Linked DNA regions of Homo sapiens: region 1 is linked to region 2. Evidence: fine-mapped expression QTL. A gene starts in region 2. The other region holds a variant in brackets. All regions are shown on one strand. Distances are from middle to middle. Region 1 overlaps ZNF697 (zinc finger protein 697). Region 2 holds the start of ZNF697 (zinc finger protein 697).

What was found.
Region 1: its variant is fine-mapped to the expression of ZNF697 in whole blood (INTERVAL, PIP 0.96).

Annotation. Positions count from the first base shown.
Region 1 is chr1:119,617,666-119,620,572 of GRCh38, forward strand. ZNF697 (zinc finger protein 697) reads right to left here. Exons shown (of 3, transcript NM_001080470.2): 3 at 1,712-2,907. Among named protein-coding and RNA genes, the nearest start is that of LINC00622, 20 kb to the left of the region's middle. The variant A/G (reference allele first, on the strand shown) is at 1,153.
Region 2 is chr1:119,646,857-119,649,763 of GRCh38, forward strand. It overlaps ZNF697 (zinc finger protein 697), which reads right to left and starts at 1,410. Exons shown (of 3, transcript NM_001080470.2): 1 at 835-1,410. It overlaps LOC124904389 (a long non-coding RNA gene), which reads left to right and starts at 1,460. Exons shown (of 2, transcript XR_007066506.1): 1 at 1,460-1,531; 2 at 1,868-2,120. RefSeq lists silencers at 827-990, 1,288-1,347 and enhancers at 1,406-2,246, 1,418-1,487.

The DNA of each region.
Region 1 (2,907 bases), 29 kb before region 2:
CTGAATGTATCATCTTGCCCTAGCATAACATGTGAAGCCTTGACATGAAGTTCCCCCCGGTCCACCTCCCATCCCTTGCAGCCCCAGGGGCCAAATCCTTAAAGTCAGACTTATAGTTGGCAAAATAATTCGCCCAAGCAGGTTGGGCAGGCAGAAAACAAAATAGGCCTTCACCTTCACCTTTAAATGGTGTTGGAATGTGTAAGCATCTCTACCTCTCTCATATCTGTCTCTCTAGCATTGAGCACTATGCCTGGCACTTGCCCACTCAGCTGAGGGGTGAACTTCTCAGGGTCTCTGCTCTTAATGAGTCACAGCCTTGGGGCCTGGGGAAGGCCAGTCATACACAGATGGTATCAGAACACCCAGGCAGAACCACTCCCTACCTCAGCCCTTGATGCTTTCAGAAAAGCATCTCAGTGGAGTGTCTTCAGTGAATAAAAAGAATGCATGGAACTGCTTCCAGTGAATCCCTGGTCTCCAGGAACTGGCGTCTGGCAGTTCTTTACTCAGGTTGGAAATCCTTCAAATACGTGTGTGGGAATGCCAATTTAAACATTGCACGTACACTGACACCTTTTTCAACCTCCTTAAAAACACAGGGCAACATGGTATATGGAACACCTTGCCACCCACCTCATTGGCTTCCAAAGCTGAGCATTCCCAGCTGCTGGAATGAGACAGGGCGCCAGCTGGATGCAGACAGCATTGTGAACAGTGCCCTGGATCCCACAGGAGCAGCAAGAAACTGAAACCCATTGGAATGTGCTTTGGGTTAGCAGAGATGACCTTGAAACCAGTCTAGCAGCAGAAAACTACAATCTACAGGGTACTTGCAGCTGTGATAGGGAGACAGAGGAGCAAGCACTAGGCAATTCATGCTGGAGGCTGGCCAGGTGTGCTCCTCCCCTCCCACCAGGGGCAGAGAGGATGGAAATTATGTGATTGCCAAGGGCAGCTGAGAAAAGGAGTCATGCCTGGGGTTTTGCTTTGTTGTGAGCTGAGTTGGGGGAATAAAGATCTGAGAGGAGCGGAGGAAGGCTGACTATGAGTGGTGAAGACGGTGAAGGCCAGCAGCAGCCTTCCACACCTATTCCATTGTCATCTGATGGACAGCCAAGACAAGCACTTTTCCTGGCTCTTACTTATGAT[A/G]TTGTCTTCACTATTTGGAGCAGTTGTGTGACAGGAGGCCTACCAGGAGCAGACAAAGCCTGATGCACCTTGCACTGCCCTTTGCCTCCATACCCCCCAGCGGAGGAGAGGATTTGAGCCTTATGTATTATTATACTTACTGTAATTCCCAAGAAAGAATGGGGGGTCTCTAATTGGTCCTACAGAGTTCTCAACCCTGTTTGCTCATTAAAATCACCTGGGGAGTTTCTATAAAACTACAGGAACTTAGGCCTCACTCCAATTAATTGCTCTCTTCATTTAAAAGGCAAACAATCCAAAAAGCTCTCCAAGGTTAAAAAAATCTGTAGCTTAAACTAATCAAACCTCAAGAATTCCAGGTTGACCAGGTACAGTTTTTCTAATTGGAATGTGGGCAGAGGCCCACTCACGGCAAATTCAGGGTGAAGTAGCACAGATAATATGCAAATGTGCCTGTATGGGTATGACTGTATTCTAATGCAACTTTATGTACAAAAATATGCAGGGCAGATTTAGTAGTTTGTCAACCCTTGTTCTACAAGAACATAGCTTCCATAGATAGAGCTGAGTGACATTTAATGTGTGGCAAAGAAGAATGACATGGTAAAAGACTGATATGGATTTAATGACAAATATTCCATATTGGTTGCTGAACACCAGAATGCTGTCCAAGGAACCATCGTTAAATAAAACAACCTGAAAATAAGGCAAATCTCACGTATACAAGCACACTCACACGAAACCTGTTACTTTTAGGATCATTAAATTATTCACTATTTTAACAAACAGCTGTAAAATAACATTACAGTGAAGAAAAATGTGCACAAACTTCAGAAACACAGTTTAGATTGTCTATGAACACAGGTCCTTAATTTGTATTTTTTCACATATGTACAGTCTCTTGATTGTAAAGAGACCACATGGCTCAAGGGGTTAACTTCTCATTTTCTCCTTCCAACTCGGAGCTCAAGATTTAATCAAAACCATTTAGCCTATTTAAATTGCTCCAGGTTTTGCTTAGTAAAGGGCAGCAGAGGAAGACTGCTCTTCATCAAATTCTCCAGGAAACAAATAATACACTTGCTTCCACCATCATTAATGAGTTGGTGGAAAAAGTCCTCAGATTAACGTTTTCAAGGGTGAACCGCAGTTAGCAGGGTTTGCCGAAGAAATATTATTCTAAAACTAGATAGAAGAAACAAACAACCTCCTGAATGCATTTAACCTCACTTAATGCAGGTAAGTTCCCTGAAGAATTGTAAGAAAAAATGGAATCACATTTTAAATGCACCAATAGAGTCGGGTGTTGGTAGTTGGATTGTTTTCTTCTGCTAAGAATGTGCTCATAGAAGGGATATCAACGTAGCAGCTGACTTTTTTATCCATGGTAATAGAAATAATGAGAGAGGTAAATGAAGTCCAAAGATTCCCACTGCCACTAAACTATTTTACATTAGCTTCACTCTCCACTCCCTGTTGAACCCATTCTCTAAAGTTGCTGATATGTAGTATATTTGATGCAGACGAGACCAGGCATAGCAATGGCAGCAAAAAAGCAAAAAAAAAGCGGATAATCAATCCATGAATAATCAAAAGTTGGATGAGATTTCATAGGCACAGACTTGAGAAAACTTAAAACAGCTGGAAGAGGTAGATGTACATGGAAAGAAACCCACAAAGCAGTAAGATTACCTAGAAATTGGCTATATTATTTTCAGGTGGGTCTAATATGTTTAGTATTCAGATTACAAATCA
Region 2 (2,907 bases):
ACAGCTACTCAAAGACATTTAACTCGCTAGCCATTATCCAACCGCATTTACCAGACGCTCAGTCTTGAGGGAGGAGGGTAACGCAGTAGGGGATGCGGAGTATTGGTGTCATCCTACAGGTTAAGGACAAACATGCCCACTACAAGGACAGGGATACATCACCAACTTCAATTCAGCCCAGGGTTCATGTAGTAAGGGGTGGGTGATTCACTCCTGTGGGGGAGGCAGGGCGGGGGCGGTTGGGGGAGGCGGTTAGGAAAAAGGAAAATCGTGGAAAGTCCCAGAGGAAGTGGTAGTCAGTTCCCGATGCATGGCCATAATGTACATTGGCCATAAGGTACACTCAGCGCCTCTGTGTCGCTGCTCCCCCTCAACCTTTTACTCACCCACTCCTCCCAACACGCGCCTCACCCGTGCCTCCATGCACAATCCTGAGCCTCGGCATCCCCGCGAGGTGCAGGTTCCAGCTTTGCCCACCACCCCACCACCTACCTACATGGACACGTGTGGTTGGAATGCCTCCCGGGGCTAGACGGCCACCCCTCTTGGGCTGCGAGCTGCTGCCCATCTCTCCACCCACCCGTCCTTATTGTGTCATTTGCCCGGTCTGATGGCAGCCCCAAAGCCGCTCATTTGAGTGGGCTAGAATGGAGAAGAGAGGAAAAGGGAGGCACACATTTCATTCACTAGGACCCAAGATGACCTGCCGCCTCTCTCCTGCCCTTCTCGGAGCCCCCCACCCTCCCTTAGCCCCAGTGGGGCTGGAGGCACGAACAGACAAGGCAAGGGGAGCGCAGTCCGTCAAGGTCCACAGCTGCACACAAAGCCCTTCACCTTCTCCTTGCCTTCCAAGCTCCTCCCTGGGCTTGGTTTCTCCGAGGGTCTCTGATGCCCCCTTCGGTGGTCGGCGGGACGGTCCTATTCCCTCTTGCATCGCTGTCTCCTCCCTCAAGTCTCAGCCTCCTCCTCCCCGCCCCTCGCCACATACCCCTGAGGGAGCTCAGTCCTGGCTTTGGGGGCGCGAGAGCACCCCATAAGCCCGGGGCCCTGCGCCCCAGGGGAGCGGACAACGGTCCACTTTACGAGGCACAACTTCGCCCAGCCGTTCCGCCACCGCACTCGAACACACACCCCATCCCCGCAGCGGTCGGGTCTGGTCCCGATCAGCCCCATCCCCGGGAGGCGGTTGAGCCCAGCCACAGCCACGCTCCTACCTGCGAGGCGGCTGGCGCGGCGAGGAGCTAGGGCACCGAGCGCCCCGGCCCGAGCCCCGCACCGCAGCGCGTCTGCCCTTGTGCGGCGGCGGCGGCTGCAGCGGCCGCTGGGTGGCCCGCTGGCTGGCTGGTTGGCTGGCTGGCTGGCTGGCTGGCTGGCTGGCTCGCTGGCTGGCTGCCCGGCTGACTCCTCACTGGGGCTTCCTGTAGGGCTGGACAAAGGACATTTCCTGGGAGGAGCGGGAGAATGTTCCCAGCATGCCTCGATTTGTAGTTCCCGGGGACTTCCTGCCACCGCAGCAGCGGGCGCCCTGGAGGTAGCTCGGGCCAGGCTAGGACTCCGGGACAGGAGGAAAGGCGCTCGCTGCTTCTCTAAGCGCTGTGGGGAAGGGAGCGGCCGGCGGGTCTTGCCCCACGCCCCGCCCCGCGGCGCTCAAGGAGCCCGCTGTCCCGGAGCACGCGAGATCCCAGCGCTGCACTCCGAGCTCGCGGCACCGGTTGCGGGCAGCCGGTGGGACGCTGCCGCTGAGCTGTCCCATGGTTCGGGAGGGCTCTGCGGTGGGAGAGGCCTTTTCTTTAAAAACTGGGAAGTTTGTGGTGGGTTCGCTTTTTAAAAATTAATCTAAAAACACAAAATCTATCTTTTAAAATAGATTTTCTTTTTGTCTTTTACGCCGTTGACATCCTGCTGGGGGCCGATTAAAGAACTTGATTGCTCACCAGGAATTCAGGTTCCTTAAGATCTTGGCGCTTCATCTTTAAAACCATACAGAGCTGATTGTTTCCAGATCCCGACCCGGTGACATTCCTCCCTCATTGTTGACCTTGTCCCAAACATCTTTTCAAGAAAAGCAATTAAATTGAGATTGAAAATAAATTACGTAAATTAAATATTAGACGTGAAAACCTGTGTGCTGCTGAATTAGGAAAGTGCTGGACTTTCTGCGTATCTTTCCTTCATTAACCTTTAGGATTCAGCTTCTTGGTCCCATAAAACAGATGTGCTGGCCACTGTATATTGAGTGTGTGTATTTCGGGAGTGGAAGGGTGAGGAGAAGAGGACATTGGCTACAAGAGAGGAACTCTACTTCCAGCCTAGCAAGAGTCTATGATGCCCTGCACATGTTTTTGTCTATTTCTGGGACCACAGACTCAGGACCCTTAGAAAATCAAGGAAGGACCACATAGAGACTAAATGACTAAAAGCTATATTCTCTCCTGGAGCATGAGCAGAAAGTAATAAACTGAACTAGGAAAGGACAAGTTCTAGGATGCTCTAGAATGTGTTTGAAAAGTAATCAGATAGAAAAGTCTCTGGGAGGCCGGGCGCGGTGGCTCACGCCTGTAATCCCAGCACTTTGGGAGGCCGAGGCGGGCGTACTACGAGGTCAGGAGATGGAGACCATCCTGGCTAATACGGTGAAACCCCGTCTCTACTAAAAAAAAAAACACCAAAAATTAGCCGGGCGTGGTGGCGGGCACCTGTAGTCCCAGCTACTCGGGAGGCTGAGGCAGGAGACTGGAATGAACCTGGGAGGCAGACCTTGCAGTGAGCTGAGATCATGTCAGTGCACTCCAGCCTGGGCAACAAAGTGAGACTCCGTCTCAAAAAAAAAAAAGAAAGAAAGAAAGAAAAGTCTCTGGGCTTGGTGGCTCATGCCTGTAATCACAGCACTTTGGGAGGCCGAAGTGG